3 linked regions of the Homo sapiens genome follow. The protein of the gene in region 1 interacts with the protein of each later gene in a pairwise test. Each region holds a gene or a part of one and is shown in the gene's direction. Other genes may lie near its edges.

Region 1 (6,621 bases):
AAGCCACCCCCGACCCCCCTCCACCCTGCCCCCAGCACAATGCTGCGAGGCTCTCCCACGTTGCACCAGCTGGCCAAGGGGGCTCCCAGAGGTCATCTCGTCCAAGCCCCTGTCTGCTGGTGGGCCTGCAGGGAGCCTCTGCGACCTCTCTCGTGACCAACAGCAAGTCTGAGGGGCACCTGTTTAGAGCCCAGGCCCAGCTCTGCAATGAAAGCAGAAAAGAGACAAAGCAAGATGGGAGGACTGTGGGGGCTTAGCAAGGGGGACTAACATAGCCTGGAAAGAGGGCGGGGCACTGGACCTAGGGGCTGAGGACTTAGATTCCAGGCAGAGGATGCAGAGGTTGAGCAAAGGCTGAGAGGTGACAGGGAAATGATGAATTGGGAAGTCAGAGCCCAGATGATAAGGCCTTGACCGCCAGCTCCCCTATGCCCTTGTCCCTGGCAGGGTATCCTCAGGTCCGAGCCCCTGGACAGCAGCCCCAGGCCCAGCTGGCCATGGCCCTGTGCCTGAAGCAGGTGTTCGCCAAGGACAAGACGTTCCGGCCGCGGAAGCGCTTTGAGCCGGGCACACAGCGCTTTGAGCTGTACAAGAAGGCACAGGCCTCTCTCAAGTCGGGCCTGGACCTGCGCAGTGTGGTGAGGCTACCACCCGGGGAGAACATCGACGACTGGATCGCCGTGCACGTGGTGGACTTCTTCAACCGCATCAACCTCATCTACGGCACTATGGCGGAGCGCTGCAGTGAGACCAGCTGCCCGGTCATGGCCGGCGGGCCCCGCTACGAGTACCGCTGGCAGGACGAGCGCCAGTACCGGCGGCCCGCCAAGCTCTCTGCGCCGCGCTATATGGCATTGCTCATGGACTGGATCGAAGGCCTCATCAACGACGAAGAGGTCTTTCCCACGCGTGTTGGTGAGTGTCACCTGGCGGGGAGGGAGCCACTGGGAGCCCATTCCACAGATGAGGATTTAGTTTGATATAGACACTCTGCAGGGTTGGGGGTTGATTTTCATCCCCATTTTGTGGAAGAGGAAAGCGAGGTTGAAACAGGTTAAGTGCCTTGCTCAAGGTCAAGCATTTGCTAGGACTTCCTGACTCCCAATTTGGGGCTTTTCTTTCTTTTCTTTTTCTTTCTTTCTTTCTTTTTTTTTTTTTTTCTTTTCTGAGACAGAGTTTCGGTCTTTCACCCAGTGGTGAGATCTCAGCTTACTGCAACCTCTGCCCCCCGGGTTCAAGCGATTCTCCTGCCTCAGCCTTCTGAGTAGCTGGGATTATAGGCACCCACCACCACGCCTGGCTAATTTTTGTATTTTTAGTAGAGACAGGGTTTCACCACATTGGCCAGGCTGATCTCGAACACCTGACCTCAGGTGATCCACCCACCTCAGAGGGCTTTTCTTTTCTAAAGCATAAGTGGTCCCACCAAGGACCACTCTGGCAAGACCACAGATGCTGTGATTCTCAGAACCTTCCAGAACAGTTGCCCCGAGGTGTTCATAGCTGATTTGACCTCCAGCCTCCCGGGGTTCCCTCTGACTCCTGGCCTCAGGAAAAGGAGGGAGTTGGTGGTTGGGTGGGCCCTGGTGGTATCATCACCTCAGATTGGGGCTCTGAGGACAGAATTTTCCCTTGCCAGGCACAGGCTGTGGGGCCTTTTCTTATCTCAGCTGGGCAGCCTGGGCGGGTGAGGGTAGGGAGGGGAGATGAGTGATGTCACCCAGGCACTGCTTACCCACCCGAGGGCAGCAGGAGGGGGTTGTTGGTCCAGGAGCTGAGCAGGCATGACACTGTGTTCATCACACCAGCCGCACCTGTAGCTGGGCCCAGCCCCCACCTGGCCTGGAGCTCATCTCTGCAGAGGCTGTGTGGATCAGCGGTGGGTGGGGCAGGGTGGTCAAGCCCTGAGGGGAGAAGTCTGAATGCTGAAGGAAGCTGGGCACTGAGTCACAATTCAATGCCCACGGCTCCTCCCCAGCCAGTGGCCTGCTGTTTCTTGCACTGTCATGCCCGACAAGGAGCACCTTCATTTTACATAGGAGGAAACTTGAGGCTACTGAGGGAAAGTGCACTGAACTGGGAGGAATTCCGAACTGGGGCTCAGATCTGTGGGAGCCCAGGACCCCAAGTCTACATGGGCAGGATATGTCTGAGGAATCTGGGCTGGGCTGGAGGGGCTCAGAGGGAGGGAAGGCTCGACCCCACCTGGGAATGGTGAGGAAGAGGAGGGGGTCTACAGAGCCGGGTGGGCCAGCTGTGGACCTGAATGTAGATTCATAGTCCCTGCTGGCCATACCTCCCTGGGCCTGTGGGACTCCAGGTATCGATGCCTAAAACCCTGGGTGACTGCCACACAGAGAAGAGGGCATAAGCCACCAAGATCTCTGCCTTGAGCATGGGGGACTATGCAGAAGCGGGGCCTTTTTCATGGGTCCCAATATCTGTGAGGGTCGCTGCAGTGCACTGCAAAGAGGGTCTGAATCCAGTCTCCATTCTGCACTGATTAATACTTATGTGGCCTTGGGCTAGCAGCTTCACCTTTATAAGCACTTCTGTTTTATCATATCTAAAGTGACAATCAGACACATCAGGCGAATTGTTCTAAGGATTAGAGGCAAAAGGTGTGAAGGGCCCAGCACAAGGCCTTGCTCATAAATGGAAGGTTCTTCGTGTTGTTGAATATTTGAAGGAATGAGGGCTGTCTGAACTAACTCTTGCAGAATTCATAATTTCCAGGATTGGGGGTCTGAGGACTTCTGTGTGAATGTTGAAAAGAGGAGGGACATGGGGTGGGGCTAGAGAGGGAGGTCAGGATAAGATCATGAAAGGCCTTGAGCAGCGTCCTGCTGGAAAGTTAGGACTTAATCCTGAAGGCCCAGGGATTTTTTAAATGGACCCAGTTGTTGAACTCTCCTTGGAGTTGTATACAAGAGTGTGATGTGAGCATCTCTGCAATTGCACATATTTCTGGGGAGAGTTTAGGTCGTAACTTTTATCATAGTCTAAAAAGGGTTGGTCAGTGACCCCCACAAGTTTGCAAAGCCCTGCTTTAGGTAATGGGAAAATGTGGAAGATGATGTATATTCCAGCAGGGGAGAGCCACAGTCAGATTTGTGCTTCATTAGAAAGAAAAGTATGGCCAGGCACAGTGGCTCATGCCTGTAATCCCAGCATTTAGGAGGACGAGGCAGGTGGATCACCTGAGGTCAGGAGTTCAAGACCAGCCTGACCAACATGGAGAAACCCTGTCTCTACTAAAAATACAAAATTAGCTGGGCATGATGGCACATGTCTGTAATCCCAGCTACTTGGGAGGCTGAGGCAGGAGAATACCTTGAACCTGGGAGGTGGAGGTTGCAGTGAGCCGAGATCATGCCATTGCACTTGCCTGGGCAAGAGTGAAACTCCGTCTCAAAAAGGAAAGAAAAAAAGAAAGGAAGAAAGAAAGAAAAGTATGGGAGAAAGTCAAACCACTCTCTGTTTTCCAAAGGGAAGTGTACTAAAAAGTGTGCTGGGGAAAAAGCCATCCTGGTTGCCTGTGTGTGGGAGGGAAAAGTTGAGCAGAGCTTTGGCACCAGGATACTGATCCCCTTCTGCCCTCCCCTGCCCTCTAGGAGTTCCCTTCCCTAAGAACTTCCAGCAGGTCTGCACCAAGATCCTGACCCGCCTCTTCCGAGTCTTTGTCCATGTCTACATCCACCACTTCGATAGCATCCTCAGCATGGGGGCAGAGGCGCACGTCAACACCTGCTACAAGCACTTCTACTACTTCATCCGCGAGTTCAGTCTGGTGGACCAGCGGGAGCTGGAGCCACTGGTGAGGCCAAGCCCTACCACCCTCCCCTACCAAGGCTAGCCTCTGAGTTTTCACGTCCAAAAGCTGCCTGCTTTAAGTAACTCCAACGCCCAAGTAGATGAATTAGGGGAAGGCAATTCATTTAACAGTGAATTCTGTACTTCAATAGAGAATTCATTCAAGTGTTGGTTTACAAACCCAGATCTGCAGCCTAAGAGTTGGGGTTGCTGGGGGAAGGCCAGGCTCAGACAGAAGAGCAGCTAGGCCCTATGGTTTGGGAAGGGATTGCCTAGTAGGCTGAGCTCTAATTGACCCCTCCCTACCTTGTGTCTCTACAGAGGGAGATGACAGAGCGGATCTGCCACTGAGCCCAGGTCTGGACTTTTTTGGCCATCAGATGGACGATCTGAACATAGGGTGGCTGGCAGAGGGGACCCCCAGGAGCCTGAAGGAATCTGAAGGCACTGGAATCACTCCACACACCCAAAGCCTCTGGACTTCTGGTTCTCAGGAGTCTGCCTACCTGTCGCCCTGACCGCTTGTGGATGGAGAAGGGGAGAGCATCTAGGCAGGCAAACAGAAGGGAAGTGGAGTTAAACCTCTGGCATGAAGTCTGGGAGTAGGGTAGGCTAGGGGGTTTCTTCTATGACACTTGACCCTTCCATGCTGGTTCCCAAGCCTATTGGAGGAATGTGGGTGTGGCCGAGGTGATGGCAAGAAAGGTGCAAGAAAGTGAGCAGTCTGCCTGTGAGTGAGCACAGATGCCGGGGTGTGTGTGTGTGTGTGTGATTTTCACTGTGGGGTGTGTCTGTGAGAGCTAGCTGCCTTACCCCTCCTTGGCACATAGTAGGCCTTCCATAAATGTTGGATGGATGGATAAATAGATTGGGACCATCAGACCATGGGACCATCAGACCATGACCACTGTAGGAGTGATGACAGCTCAGCGTCCCCACTCAGTGTATCTGACCATGTGTGTAAGTGCACAAAAATGTGGTTGTAGATGTTGCTCTACATTCAAACCTTCCAGGCTACACTCTTCCATCAGCATGAGTCCTGGAGAGCTGGGGGAACGTAGGAAGAGGAGCCTTGCCTTGAGTTCCTAAACCGACCCACTGCAGACACAGGCTCTGATTCTCTTACCCAGAGATGCCCATGAGCTGACATTTTACTCATCCCTCTGCCTCCAAGAAGGCCTGTATTATACGTGTCCTCCTGGGGGTTGGAGATGATCCCTCAAGTACACAAAGGTCCCCTGGCCCTTCATCTGGGAATCATATACTCCACTCTAGCTCCCAGAATCTACAGACCTGGCTCCTCGGATCTGAAGCCCAGCACAAAATAATCTCCCCGTCCAAGGAGCTTGTGGAACTTGAATTGGGAACTTTGGAGTCTTGTCTCCCATCCCAGCACATTGAGGATGTAGTTGGTGAATGGACTCTTCCAGGCATGGAGATCCTCCATCCTAAAAGTACCTGCCTCCTTCCCAGCCATCCCTGACACATTCCAGCCAGTTGGATCTCACAGCACAGCTATCCACAGGGAGACTGGGATGTTCACGCAGCACTCCATTACTCAGTACCTCCATACCCAGCCCTATACGCAGACCCACAGGTGGGGAAACTGAGGCAGGAACAGGGTTCTGCCCTCCCAGAGCCTCCACTCTGGGATGCCAGAATGGAAAGCCAGAGGGAACCTGAGAATCATCCAGTCTTACTGTCTCAATGTACATACGGGGAAACTGAAGCCAGGAGAAGAAGAGGGAGAAACTGTCCAGGGCCTCACAGGGAGGCATTCATGGAGCTGGAGAAACCAGGGATCCTGACCGCAGGGCCCATCAATTGCTACATAGAGATACACATGGAAAGAGGGTTTAACAGACCCTCTCTAGGACACAACTGTTTCTGCTTTGAGCAATAATTTCTAACCTGAGGCCAACATGTCCCACTGCCCCTTGGGTTGGCTGGGGTTGTTTCCTGAGCCAAGCATCCAATATCATGCCCCACTCAATGGCCTAGAAGCTGCCTGTACTTTGGGGAAACAGATGGAGCTCTTGGGCCCAGCCAGCTGGGCCTGGGACTTCTGCCTCTGCCGCCTCCAGAGTGGCCTGGCAGCTTTGCCAGAGGCTGTGGAGCGAGGGTAGTAGGAGCTTTTCCCAGAGTGCTGTGACTTGCATGATGGATTCTAGGCTGTGGCAAGGGCTGATTTCTGGGATAGGGGGAGGGTTGGAAAATTTATTTTTATGAAACAGAGGGAAGACTTTATTGTTGTTATTTTTGGTAAAATAAAAGGCAAACTAAAGCAGCCACTGGTGGGAAGCGGTGATCTGGGTGCCACATGGCTCTTGGCAGACCATGGAAGGAACTGAGCCAGAATGGGGCTGGGAAGGCTTTTTGTCCTGAGATACTGGACCATGTGGAGGGCTGGCTGGTGTGGTCATGTCTGGCCCAGCTCTCTAGGGTGGGGACACAAAGATTCTCCTGGGGCTCTGGAAATTCTAGACCGAGCTAGGCTAGGACGCTTGGGGTGGAGAAGCCTGGCTTTTCTTTGCCTTCCGGGAACTCAGTCTGATAGGAATCGTTCCTTGTTTCATCTCAGGTTGCCTGGCATTGGCTATTCTTTTTTTTCTTTTTCTTTTTTTTTTTTTTTTTGAGATGGAGTCTTGCTCTGTCACCCAGGTTGGAGTGCAGTGGCGCGATCTTGGCTCACTGCAAGCTCCGCCTCCTGGGTTCATGCCATTCTCCTGCCTCAGCCTCCGGAGTAGCTGGGACTACAGGCACCCACCACCACGCCCAGCTAATTTTTTTGTATTTTTAGTAGAAACG
Region 2 (7,028 bases), on another chromosome or scaffold:
TGTAAATGCTCCTGTCAGTTTCTGCTGCAGTAAAATAGCTCTTCCTTTATTCACAGAAAGGGAATAAGTTACATGGACTCCTTAGATTTATTATTTAAAGCATGATGGACCATTATGCTGATTCTGTTTTTAATGTTTATTTCACTTTGGAATTAGTCTTGTTCCCCGGGAAATCATTTCCTGGCTTCTAAGTTGACAGTTCTCTGTTATTTGTTGTGCCTGAAAAGTTTGGTACAACCAGGCTAACAGAGGCAGTTAGTGCAGATGATGATGTCAAAAATCTCTTTATAGGCTGAGCATGGTGGCTCACACCTGGAATCCCAGCATTTTGGGAGGCCAAGGTGGGATTGCTTGAGTCCAGGAGTTCGAGACCAGCCTGGGCAACATGGTCTCTACAAAAAAAAAAAAAAAAAATTAGCTGGGCATGGTGGTGTCCATCTGTGGTCCCATCTACTTGGGAGGCTGAGATGGGAGGATCACTTGAGCCCAGGAGGTCAAGGCTGCCGTGAGCTGTGACCACATCAGTGCACTCCAGGCTGGATGACAGAGTGAGACCCTGTCTCAAAAAAAAAATGAAAAGGTCTTTATAGTCATTTTTCATAACCCAACCTACCCCTAAAATCAGGGTGAATACCCAGAGAACACCTAAAGAAAGGAGTATGCAGTTGGGCCGGGCGCGGTTGCTCACACCTGTAATCCCAGCACTTTGGGAGGCTTAGGCGGGTGGATCACGAGGTCAGGAGATCGAGACCATCCTGTCTAACACTGTGAAACCCCATCTCTACTAAAAAATAATACAAAAAATTAGCTGGGCTTGGTGGTGGGCGCCTGTAGTTCCAGCTACTCAGGAGGCGGAGGCAGGAGAGTCGCTTGAATCCGGGAGTTGCAGGTTGTAGTGAGCCGAGATCGTGCCACTGCACTCCAGTCTGGGTGATGGAGCGAGATTCCGTCTCAAGAAAAAAATAAAAAAAAAGAAAGGAGTATACAGTCATGGAACTGTCACACAGAGCCAGTTCCATTTGCCAAGTACAAGATATCGAATCAATGTATTTTTGTGGCTTGGCATGGTGGTTCACACCTGTAATCCCAGCACTTTGGGAGGCTGAGGCTGGCGGGTCATTTGAGACCAGGAATTCGAGACCAGCCTGGCCAACAAGGAAAAACCCCATCTCTACTAAAAACACAAAAATTAGGCAGGCGTGATGACATGCACCTGTAATCCCAGCTGCTTGGGAGGCTGAGGCAGGAGAATCACTTGAACCCAGGAGGCGGAAGTTGCAGTGAGCCGAGATCACGCCACTGCACTCCAGCCTGGGTGACAGAGTGAGACTCGGCCTCAAAAATAAAAATAAAAATGACAAAAAAAAAGGTATTTTTGTGATCAATTCTTTCATTTGGATTTAGGTGAGCGACCTGTGAGAGTTTATGCCGATGGAATATTTGACTTATTTCACTCTGGTCACGCCCGAGCTCTGATGCAAGCGAAGAACCTTTTCCCTAATACGTACCTCATTGTGGGAGGTAAGAAAACATTTGGTGACTTCAGGTGCTGTGCAGAAAAAGATGATAGTACAGTCTGTCTTTCTCAGCTGAGTACACTGGCTCTTGTTTCCATTTTTAAATGAAGGATGTAGTACAGCCTCTCTAACACACATGAAGTATATGGGTACCAGCAAACTAAACCTGGAGAGAGGAGCTTCAAGCTCCTCGACTGTGCCATCTGGCATTTATTCACTGCTTGTAGCTGAGTTTCTGTGGTCACAGGAGCAGCCGTGACTTCCGTTGTCCACTTTAAAACATTTGCTTTAGATTTCAGTTTATCATTTTGAATTAACTGGAGTACAAAAGTCTGCCAAGGAAATGTTAGGTGGTCCAGTCCAGTGTGAATAAAACAGGAAAACATGTTTAAGGACTTAATTGATGCAGACACGCACAGCAGGTTTATTTCAGAGTCAAAGATCTTGGTCACCTGTTGTACTGTCCCTTCTCCAAAGTATGAACATACTGTTTAGTGAGTGTTGCTCCTGAAGGTATACGCTGCATTAGGAAAAGCGTTATCACCCAGGTTCAACCACCTTTAGAAGACTTTTTTCCAGTTGGGGAAGATGGTTGCAGTCCTAAGCAGTGGGAGAAGATGGGAGAGGTCGGTGGCTGAGGAGGTGCTAAGCAAAGAGGACTCCAACACACAATTTATGATGTGGTGAACCAGTTTGCAGTGATGAGCTCACACACAACTTCAAAGGCTTCACGGTGATGAACGAGAATGAGCGCTATGACGCAGTCCAGCACTGCCGCTACGTGGATGAGGTGGTGAGGAATGCGCCCTGGACGCTGACACCCGAGTTCCTGGCCGAACACCGGGTAAGAAACTGGACACATATTCCCATTCCTTGTTTCAGAATCCCCTCAACTCTCAAAGCTGCTGGCACGTAGGCTGGTTTTCCACTAGCCGTGTTTTACTTCTACCTCTTATGTAAGTTTCGTAGGAGATGACAGTGATATTACTAGTGATAACAGTCACCCCTGACGTTTATATGGGGCTGGATGGTTTGCAAGCACTTTTACATCCATTCTATTCCATTTTCTGCCCACAGCAATCCTGTGGTGTGTTTGTCATTTCCGCTTTACATATGAGTAACAAGGGCTAGAGAAACCAAATAACCTGCTCCAAGTTACACCATTGGCAGGGCTGGGAACTGAACTCGCCACAAGTTACACCACTGGCAGGGCTGGGAACTGAACTCGCCACAAGTTACACCACTGGCAGGGCTGGGAACTGAACTCGCCACAAGTTACACCACTGGCAGGGCTGGGAACTGAACTCGCCACAAATTACACCACTGGCAGGGCTGGGAACTGAACTCGCCACAAGTTACACCACTGGCAGGGCTGGGAACTGAACTCACCAGTTACGAGACCTTCCCCCCACACCATAGGCACATCTACCCTTAGAACATGCCAGTCTCCTGAGAATATCCATAGCCCCAGGTGAACTCTGAAGACGGTCACATTACCAGGAAATAAGACGGATTAACATAGACTTTTCTTGGCTTAAGTTTCATTTCAGGGCTTTGATCTTATGCTAGAAATTGGGTGGAATCAGAAATCAAGGATATTTCTCACTGTTTCTCAGTAAGTTATTATCAACCCCTTACCTCCTTTTAATTCTCCCACATTAAAGTAACAGATTTCAGCCAGGTGCAGTGGCTCACGCCTGTAATCCAAGCACTTTGGGAGGCCAAGGTGGGAGGATCGCTTGAGCCCAGGAGCTCAAGACCAGCCTGGGCAACATACCGAGACCCTGTCTCTACTTTAAAAAAAAAAAAGCCACAGGTTTCCTGCAAAAGGTGGGTACAAAAGATGAGAAGGATTGATTAGGCCAGGTTAGAGGCCCCCAAGCCTGAGGAAATAGCAAGCATGTTGTCAGTTCTCTACAGGGGCGCGTGGAATGTTGTAGGTAAATTGTTCAGTGAGGCAGAAAGAATGAAGGCAGCCAAAGTGCTTCTAAAGCAATACGTGGGTAGGCCTGAAGAGGGGATATTTATTAAAACTATTGAGGATTAGGACAGACCTTTTATAATTCTCTGGCTTTTCTACATCAACACCTAGCAGCCAGTGGCACCAAAGGTGGTAAGCAAGTTTATTCTCAGCACCACAGCCCACAGGCCCAGACAGAAGTATGAAGTTAGAGGAATTTCTAACTCCCCTTTTCTCTTTGTTAACAATATATACTCAACCTTGAGTTTTGCTTGTCCCATTCTTTTTTTTTTTTTTTTTGAGACAGAGTTTTGCTCTGTTGCCCAGGCTGGAGTGCAATGGCGTGATCTCGGATCACCGCAACCTCCGCCTCCCGGGTTCAAGTGATTCGCCTGCCTCAGCCTCCCGAGTAGCTGGGATTACAGGTGCGCGCCACCATGCCCGGCTAATTTCTTGTATTTTTAGTAGAGGCAGTGTTTCGCCGTTTTGGCCAGGCTGGTCTTGAACTCCTGACCTCAGGTGATCCACCCGGCCTCCTATTCTTTACTTTGCTGCCTATGGATCCCTGACAAGTTGTTCATGAGTAATTGAGATGCTGGCTGAGAGTCTCTGACATAGTCCCAATGAACATGCTTCACACTACAGTGGTCTCTCGGGGATGGTATAGTGATCTTAGTAATTATCAGCAAAAGGCTGGTGGCCCATACAGGAAGGAGTAAGTGAAGTTTAGCACGCCTCCGAACAACATTATTGATCCCCAGTATCATTCATCTCTTCTTGCCCTTGCAAAGGATATTCATAGCAGTAAAATGGCCAGGCGCTGTGGCTCACGCCTGTAATCCCAGCACTTTGGGAGGCCAAGTCAGGTGGATCACTTGAGGTCAGGAGTTCGTGACCAGCCTGGCCAACACGGTGAAACCCTGTCTACTAAAAATGCAAAGATTAACCAGGCGGGGTGACATGCGCCTGTAGTCCCAGCTACTCGGGAGGCTGAGGCAGGAGAATCGCTTGAATCCAGGAGGCAGAGGTTTCAGTGAGCCGAGACTGTGCCACTACACTCCAGCCTGGGCGACAGAGCGAGACTCGGTCTCAAAAAAAAAAAAAAAAGTAGTGAAATGATAGATCCTGAGGATAAAACTTCTTTTATTTATTTATGTATTTTTATTGATCATTCTTGGGTGTTTCTCGCAGAGGGGGATTTGGCAGGGTCATAGGACAATAGTGGACGGAAGGTCAGCAGATAAACAAGTGAACAAAGGTCTCTGGTTTTCCTAGGCAGAGGGCCCTGCGGCCTTCTGCAGTGTTTGTGTCCCTGGGTACTTGAGATTAGGGAGTGGTGATGACTCTTAACGAGCATGCTGCCTTCAAGCATCTGTTTAACAAAGCACATCTTGCACCGCCCTTAATCCATTTAACCCTGAGTGGACACAGCACATGTTTCAGAGAGCACAGGGTTGGGGGTAAGGTCACAGATCAACAGGATCCCAAGGCAGAAGAATTTTTCTTAGTACAGAACAAAATTGAGTCTCCCATGTCTACTTCTTTCTACACAGACACAGCAACAATCTGATTTTTCTATCTTTTCCCCACATTTCCCCCTTTTCTATTCGACAAAACCGCCATCGTCATCATGGCCCGTTCTCAATGAGCTGTTGGGTACACCTCCCAGACGGGGTGGTGGCCGGGCAGAGGGGCTCCTCACCTCCCAGTAGGGGCGGCCGGGCAGAGGCGCCCCTCACCTCCCGGACGGGGTGGCTGCCGGGCGGAGACGCTCCTCACTTCCCAGACCGGGTCGCGGCCGGGCAGAGGAGCTCCTCACATCCCAAACGGGGCGGCGGGGCAGTGGCGCTCCCCACATCTCAGACGATGGGCGGCCGGGCAGAGACGCTCCTCACTTCCTAGACGGGATGGCGGCGGGGAGGAGGCGCTCCTCACTTCCCAGACTGGGCAGCCGGGCAGAGGGGCTCCTCACATCCCAGACGATGGGCGGCCAGGCAGAGACGCTCCTCACATCCCAGACGGGGTCGTGGCCGGGCAGAGGCGCTCCTCACCTCCAAGACTGGGTGGCGGTCGGGCAGAGACACTCCTCAGTTCCCAGACGGGGTCGTGGCCTGGCAGAGGCGCTCCTCACATCCCAGATGGGGCGGCGGGGCAGAGGCGCTCCCCACATCTCAGACGATGGGCGGCCGGGAAGAGGCGCTCCTCACTTCCCAGACTGGGCGGCCGGGCAGAGGGGCTCCTCACATCCCAGACGATGGGCGGCCAGGCAGAGACGCTCCTCACTTCCCAGACGGGGTGGCGGCCGGGCAGAGGCTGCAGTCTCAGCACTTTGGGAGGCCAAGGCAGGCGGCTGGGAGGTGGAGGTTGTAGCGAGCCGAGATCACGCCACTGCACTCCAGCCTGGGCAGCATTGAGCACTGAGTGAACGAGACTCCGTCTGCAATCCCGGCACCTCGGGAGGCCGAGGCTGGCGGATCACTCGCGGTTAGGAGCTGGAGACCAGCCCGGCCAACACAGCAAAACCCTGTCTCCACCAAAAAAATACGAAAACCAGTCAGGCGTGGCGGCGTGCGCCTGCAATGGCAGGCACTGGGCAGGCTGAGGCAGGAGAATCAGGCAGGGAGGTTGCAGTGAGCAGAGATGGCGGCAGTACAGTCCAGCTTCCGCTCGGCATCAGAGGGAGACCATAGAAAGAGAGGGAGAGGGAGACCGTGGGGAGAGGGAGAGGGGAGAGGGGAGAAGGGAGAGGGGAGAGGGAGAAAACTTCTCTTATGGCCTTCGGTTTGTATTTCTCAGGCCAATAGATGTATCTATTCCAGTCAGAGGGCTCGTGGTTGCTATTTTTATATTCCCTCTTTTCTCACGGACTGAGAGAAACTAGTTAAGAAAGAAGTAACCTCTTTCTCATACTTTTTTTTTTTTTGAGACAGAGTCTTGCTTTGTCACCCAGGCTGGAGTGCAGTGGTGCGATTTTGGCTCACTGTAGCCTCTGCCTCCTGGGTTCAAGCAATTCTCCTGCCTCAGCCTCCCAAGTAGCTGGGACTACAAGCGCCCGCCACCATGCCTGGCTAATTTTTTTGTATTTTTAGTAGAGACGGGGTTTCACCATGTTAGCCACGTTAGTCTTGAACTCCTGACCTCGTGATCTGCCCGCCTTGGCCTCCCAAAGTGCTGGGATTACAGGCATGAGCCACCGTGCCTGGCCTTTCTCATACTTTTAGAAACCCTTATTTGACCAAATCCTTCCAGACCCAGGACAGGGAGATTTCCTTCTTTCCTAGGCTCCACCCACTAACCGGTTCACCAGCAAACCCTCTGGCCCTATTGACCACAGCAAGATGACTGGTATACAGAGTGAGGGTAACAGTTCTAGCAGACTAGGAGAAATAGCTACAAAAGCAGCTGGCTAACTTCATATGTATACTCCATAAATCATTAGGTTGGGTGGTTTGTGAATAGATTGTAGAATTTATGAGCAAAGCAAAGAGAGATATGAAGTCCACTGAGGCCTGGCCTCTGCCTATTGTCCTTTTTCTGGGCCTGAGAACATT
Region 3 (7,028 bases), on another chromosome or scaffold:
AAGGGAATCTTAATTGTTTCTTTTATTTCATGTACCCTGTTCCTTTTCTTTTGTACCCAGAAGTACTCTGTGGCCTATATATATTTTTTCTTTTTTAAAAAAAACTTTACTGTGGAAAATTTCAAACATATACAAAGTAAACAGAATAATATGATGAACCCTCTTGTACTCATCACCTTGCTTTAACATGTTACTACTCTTTTTACCTTTTTTTTTTTTTTTTTTTTGAGACACAGTCTCGCTATGTCGCCCAGGCTGGAGTGCAGTGGCACAATCTCGGCTCAAGTGATTCTCGTGCCTCAGCCTCTGACATAGCTGGGATTACAGATGTGTGTCTCCACACCCATCTAATTTTTGTATTTTTATTAATAGTAGAGATGGGGTTTCACCATGTTGGCCAAGCTGGTCTTGAACTCCTGGCCTCAAGTGATCTGCCTGCCTTGGCCTCCCAAAGTGCTGGAATTACAGCCGTGAGCCACCACACCTAGCCCTCTTTTATTATTTTTACTTCTACCTATTCCCCATCCTCTAATCAATAATTTTTTTTTTAGGTAAAATTCATATACAATGAGATGCAAAAATAAGCTGTTACAGTTACAACCACGTAGCAGACCTATCATAGTATAATACATTTTTATCTCCCTACAAAGTTCCCTTATATACCTTCCAAGTCATCCCCTGCCCCACCAGGAAACCATTGTTCTCTTTGGCTCTGCCTGTTTTAGACTGTCATATAAACAGAACCATGCATTACACATTCTTTGTGTCCGGCTTTTTTTGTCGAGCATTATATCTGTGAGATTCATCCGTGTTGCATTCCTTTGTTTCACTGAGTAGTCCATTGTATGGATATACCATGGTTTGTACATCCGTTCTCTTACTCATGAACATTTAGGTTCTTTCCAGTTTTTATTTTTTTGTTGTTGTTGTTGTTCTTTTTTTTTTTTTTTTTTTTTTTTGAGACAGAGTCTTGCTTTGTTGCCCAGGCTGGAGTGCAGTGCCACGATCTCGGCTCACTGCACCTCTGCCTCCTGAGGTCAAGTGATTCTCCTGCCTCAGCCTCCCAAGTATCTGGGACCACAGGCATGCGCCACCACACCCAGCTAATTTTTGTAATTTTGGTAGAGACAGGGTTTCACCATGTTGGCCAGGCTGGTCTCAAACTCCTGACCTCAGGTGATCCACCCGCCTCGGCCTCCCGAAGTGCTGGGATTACAGGCGTGAGCACCTGGCCTAGTTTTTGCTTTTATGCTGTGAACATTTATAACAAGTCTTGGGTGGACTTACATTTTCATTTTTCTTGGATAAGTACCAATGGGTGGAATTGCTGGGTCAATAGATGCATGGTTAATTTAATTTAATTTTTTTAATTAATTTTTTTTTTTTGAGATGGAGTTTCGCCTTTGTTGCCCAGGCTGGAGTGCAGTGGCACCATCTCGGCTCACTACAACCTCCACCTCCCGGGTTCAAGCAGTTCTCCTGCCTCAGCCTCTTGAGTAGCTGGGATTACAGGCATGCGCCACCACTCCCAGCTAGGTTTGTATTTTTAGTAGAGACAGGGTTTCGCCATGTTGGTCAGGCGGGTTTCCACCTCCGGACCTCAGGTGATCCGCCCACCTCGGCCTCCCAAATTGCTGGGATTACAGGCATGAGCCACTGTGCCTGACTGCATGTTTAATTTTATAAAAAACTGCCAAACCTTTTCCTAAACTGTTTTATGTCATTGTACATTGCTACTGACAAAAGGATGAGAGTGTGGTTTTACATTCCCACTGACAAAGGATGGGTATGTGTCTTTGGTTTGCAAGTTTAGATAAACTGATAGATACAAAAAGCTTTTTCTTAGAGGAAATGGCTTGTAGGAACATCTCAATATTAGTTGTTATTCCACAGAATGTAAGATGACCTTGAAATATATACTCGTTATTGATTTGTCCTTTTCACGTGGCTTCTAAGGAATTGTAGAAGTTATTTTAGTCCTTATAGTAAATCAGCTGATATGGTTATATAGATAGTATAGTTGTTGCCTTTCTGAGAATGAAGACGTTACTGAATGTCCTAGATTTATACATTTTAGAACTCTGTTTATAATTTCCACAGTCCTTTTAGGAACCCCTGTCTATGATTCCTAGAAACATTCTCTTTAACACTTAGTGGTTTTAGCAGTGAATATCTGTCATCACCCACACTGTTGTGGTCAGGGGGATATCACAGCAGGTAATCTAAATGGAATTCTTGGGATGAAACTCCACCAAGGTGAGTAATGTTTATGGCTTTCCAAAGCATTGCAGTTAAATCATTCAGCAATAAACCTGCGTTTGCACCATTGCCAGGTATTAATGTGAGTCATTTGTTTTATTTTAGTGATGTCCTTGCATTGCCCATTTTTAAGCAAGAAGAGTCGAGTTTGCCTCCTGATAATGAGAATAAAATCCTGCCTTTTCAATATGTGCTTTGTGCTGCTACCTCTCCAGCAGTGAAACTCCATGATGAAACCCTAACGTATCTCAATCAAGGTTAGATGCTTCCTCATTCATTAGTACTATTGCAGACCTACTGTATTTATGATTTTTTTGTTTGTTTGTTTGTTTTGAGACGGCGTCACCCAGGCTGGAGTGTAGTGGCGCCATCTTGGCTCACTGCAAGCTCTGCCTCCCGGGTTCACACCATTCTCCTGCCTCAGCCTCCTGAGTAGCTGGGACCACAGGCACCCGCCACCACACCCGGCTAATTTTTTTGTATTTTTAGTAGAGATAGGGTTTCATCGTGTTAGCCAGGATGGTCTCGATCTCCTGACCTCATGATCCGCCTGCCTTGGCCTCCCAAAGTGCTGGGATTACAGGCGTGAGCCACCGTGCCCGGCCATTTATGATGTTTTATTAGGTACACTTATATGTAAAAACTTAGATCTTTCTAGTGTGGCCTATCAAACTAGAAGTCCTACTTCAGAGATTTGAGTTCTAATGTCATACTTGATATCTATTACTAGCTTCTTTTGCTTAGCTGTCCATTTTTAGTGTCCAGCTTCCTCTTCCTAATCATATTCCCTAGACACTCCCATTGGTTACTGTCTGAGAAGTATTACTCTACCTGGCTCTATTATTTACCAATTGTGTGGCCTTGGACAAGTTGCTAAAACTCTTTTAAGTTTCAATTTCTTTGTCTGTAAAATGGGATTGATAATACCTTAGAAAAGTATATCAGTTAAATGAGATAATGTGACAATACTTAGCACAGTGCTGAGCATCTTGTAAAGGCTTCTGATTGTTGTTACTAATACTAATAATATTATTATACTGTTGTATATTCAACCAACTGAATTTTATTCTTTCCGAATCTAGCAAAGTTAATTTGTGGTGAATATAATATGTAATTACTTTTTCTTCTAGGACAGTCTTATGAAATTCGAATGCTAGACAATAGGAAACTTGGAGAACTTCCAGAAATTAATGGCAAATTGGTGAAGGTAAAACGAATAAATCATTCTTCTGTACAATATTTTTTACTAATCCTTTTGGGATTTTAAATTTTGTTGTTGTTGTTAATGTTCTTTTGCTTCCAATGGCTTAATGGTATCTCTTGCCTGCAGTAATTTGTTGGCAGAGTAGTAAGCTGATGTGTTATTTCTTTGGGGTCAGAGTAAGCCCCAGTATTCACATGAATTTTTCAGAGCTGCAGAAATAGAACGCTTACCACTCCCTGTCCAGGGTAATCACCCCTGGCTCAGTGAAGTTCTTTTGGGTGGAGTAAAGTAACCTCCTTGAGATCTTTAGAGAAGCCTCAGTGTCTTTTTTGATACTTAGTCTTATAGCAAGGAAAACAGAAGCTACTTTGATGAAGAGCAGTTCTCTTAGTCTAGATTAACAGTTAGGATTTTGATAATTCACAGCACAGTTGAAACAGAGGAGTTTTGTCAAAAGGTGGTGGGAGGAATTAATAGGCACTTCTACAAAGTAAGAGTAACAAAAGGAAAGTTGATGGAAACAGGCTCTACCTACCCTCAGTGTTTACAGGTTGTATGGTGGGTTAGCAAGCGGGGGAGTTGGTGAGTTTTTCATATACATCTGAAGAGCTAAGCCAGATAGGCCGTGGTATAACAGAAGAGGTGTGCAGAAACGCTTCAGACAGGAGTACTTTATTCCTAGTTACCATCGGACTGAAGTTTAAGCCAAGTTTTAAATATGGTACCAGTTAACTATAAAGATTCTATCTGAGAAATTGGCTGGACCCGGTGGCTCACGCCTATAGTCCCAGCACTTTGAGAGGCTGAGGCGGGCGGGTCGCCTGAGGTTGGGAGTTTGAGACCAGCCTGACCAACATGGAGAAACCCTGTCTCTACAAAAAATACAAAATTAGTCAGGCGTGGTAGCACATGCCTGTAATCCCAGCTACTCAGGAGGCTGAGGCAGGAGAATTCCTTGAACCCGGGAGGTGGAGGTTGCGGTGAGCCGAGATCACACCATTGCACTCCAACCTGGGCAACAAGAGCAAAATCTGTTTCAAAAAAAAAAAAAAAGATTATATCTGAGAAATTATAAAATTTTATCCTGAAATAGCACTTAGTATGGTATGGGTTTTAGAGTGAAACAGATCTTAAGAAAAATAATTTTAGATTGCGTTTAGAAACAAACTGGCAGTGAATCCTGCTAGTTTTTCTTTGTCAGCACTGATTTTCAAGAGGTCTTGTTATCATCTGATTTTGTTGTATCCTTTTAGAGTATATTCCGTGTGGTGTTCCATGACAGAAGGCTTCAGTACACTGAGCATCAGCAGCTAGAGGGCTGGAGGTGGAACCGACCTGGAGACAGAATTCTTGACATAGGTGAGTTAAGAGAATCTATTGCCTAGGAAATGCCTTTAGCTATGGACCCAGAGTTGGTTTTCTTTATTTGACATTTACCTTGATTCATATGCTTGAGAGGCTCAATTAGTATAAACCTTGAAATTATTTACTAAGCATAAAAAATTTTAAGTAATACAAGTTAAAATGATATCAAAATTGAAGTTGGAAGTGTAAACACTTTAGTTCCATAGCAACTATAGGTTGATTTTGTTGTTTTTTAAGTTGTGGTAAAATATACATTACATAAAAGTTATCATTTTAACCATTTTTAAGTGGATAGTTCAGTAACATTAGGTACATTCACATTATTGTGTAACCATCACTATCATCCATCTCCAGAACTTTTCTCATCTGCAAAACCAGAAGTCTGTACCTGTTAAACAACAACTCCCCATTCTCCCTTCTTCACAGCCCCTGGTAACCACTATTCTCCTTTCTGTCTCTATGAATTGGACTACTAAGTACTGCATAAATGAAATCATACAGTATTTGTCCTTTTGTGACTGGCATTTTTCACTTAGCATAATGTTTTCAAGGTTCATGGTATAGCATACATTAGCATTTCCTTCCCATGCAAGGCTGAATAATACTCCATTGTGTGTATATATCACACTTTGTTTATCCATTCATCCCATGATAGGCACTTAATTTGATTCCATTTCCTGGCTATTGTGAATAATGCTGCTATGAACATGGATGTACAAATATGTGTTTGAGTCTCTGCTTTTAATTCTTTTGGATACATATCCAGAAATGGAATTGCTGGGTCATATGGTAACTCTATCTTAGATTTTTTTTAGAAACCACTATATTGTTTTCCACAGTGACTACACATTTTACATTTCTACCAGCGGTACTCAAAGGTTCCAATTTCGGCCGGGCGCGATGGCTCACGCCTGTAATCCCAAAACTTTGGGAGGCCAAGGTGGGCAGAACATGAGGTCAGGAAATCGAGACCATCCTGGCTAACATGGTGAAACCCCGTCTCCACTCAAAATACAAAGAAATTAGCTGGGCGTGGTGGCGGGCGCCTGTAGTCCCAGCTACCCAGGAGGCTGAGGCAGGAGAATGGTGTGAACCCGGGAGGCGGAGCTTGCAGTGAGCCAAGACCACGCCACTGCACTCCAGCCTGGGTGACAGAGCGAGACTCTCTCAAAAAAAAAAAAAAAAAAAAGGTTCCAATTTCTCCAATCCTTGTCAACACTTGTTGCTTTCCTTTTTTTTTTTTTCCTGAGATGGAGTTTCGCTCTTGTTGCCCAGGCTGGAGTGCAATGGCGCGATATCAACTCACCACAACCTCTCCCTCCCAGGTTCAAGTGATTCTCCTGCCTCAGCCTCCAAGTAGCTGGGATTACAGGCATGCACCACCACACCTAGCTAATTTTTGTATTTTTGGTAGAGACGGGGTTTCACCATGTTGGCCAGGGTAGTCTCAATCTCTTGACCTCTTGATCTGCCCGCCTCGGCCTCCCAAAGTGCTGGGATTACAAGCGTGAGCCACCACACCTGGCCTGTTGCTTTCTATTTTTTGATAATATCCATCCTGATGGTTGTGAAGTAGTATCTCATTGTGGTTTTGATTTGCATTTCCCTGGTGATAAGTGATGTCAAGCATCTTTGCATGTGCTTATTGGCCATTTATATATTTTCTTTCTTTCTTTATTTTTATTTATTTATTTATTTATTTTTGAGATGGAGTCTCCCTCTGTCGCCCAGGCTGGAGTGCAGTGGCATGATCTTGGCTTACTACAACTTCCACCTCCCGGGTTCAAGCGATTTTCCTGCCTCAGCCTCCTGAGTAGCTGGGATTACAGGTGCCCGCCACCACACCCAGCTAATTTTTGTGTTTTAGTAGAGACAGGGTTTTGCCATGTTGGCCAGGCTGGTCTTGAACTCCTGACCTCAGGTGATCCACCCGCCTTGGCCTCCCAAAGCGCTGGGATTACAGGTGTGAGCCAAGGCTCCCGGCCCATCATTTATATATTTTCTTTGGAGAAATGTCTGTTCAAGTCTTTTGCCCACTATCGAATTGGATTGTTTTGTTTTTTTTGTTATTGAGTTGAAAGAATTTTTAAAATATTCTGGATATTAACCCCATAGCAGATATATCACATGCAAATCTTTTCTGTTATTGTGTGGGTTGCTTTTTTACTGTGTTGATACTATCCTTTGATGCACTAAAGTT

Evidence for each region.
Region 2: the proteins of MOB3C (region 1) and PCYT1A interact in binary tests that used the Homo sapiens proteins (3 or more experiments, as listed by UniProt).
Region 3: the proteins of MOB3C (region 1) and TFCP2 interact in binary tests that used the Homo sapiens proteins (3 or more experiments, as listed by UniProt).

The regions. Positions count from the first base shown.
Region 1 is NC_000001.11:46,607,198-46,613,818, reverse strand, and holds the end of MOB3C (MOB kinase activator 3C), read left to right. Parts: intron 1-447; 5' UTR 448-497; coding exon 498-915; intron 916-3,614; coding exon 3,615-3,817; intron 3,818-4,134; coding exon 4,135-4,164; 3' UTR 4,165-6,100; downstream 6,101-6,621. UniProt on the Homo sapiens protein: May regulate the activity of kinases.
Region 2 is NC_000003.12:196,242,700-196,249,727, reverse strand, and holds part of PCYT1A (choline-phosphate cytidylyltransferase A), read left to right. Parts: intron 1-1,404; coding exon 1,405-1,521; intron 1,522-2,209; coding exon 2,210-2,361; intron 2,362-7,028. UniProt on the Homo sapiens protein: Catalyzes the key rate-limiting step in the CDP-choline pathway for phosphatidylcholine biosynthesis.
Region 3 is NC_000012.12:51,114,109-51,121,136, reverse strand, and holds part of TFCP2 (alpha-globin transcription factor CP2), read left to right. Parts: intron 1-2,364; coding exon 2,365-2,516; intron 2,517-3,389; coding exon 3,390-3,466; intron 3,467-4,716; coding exon 4,717-4,822; intron 4,823-7,028.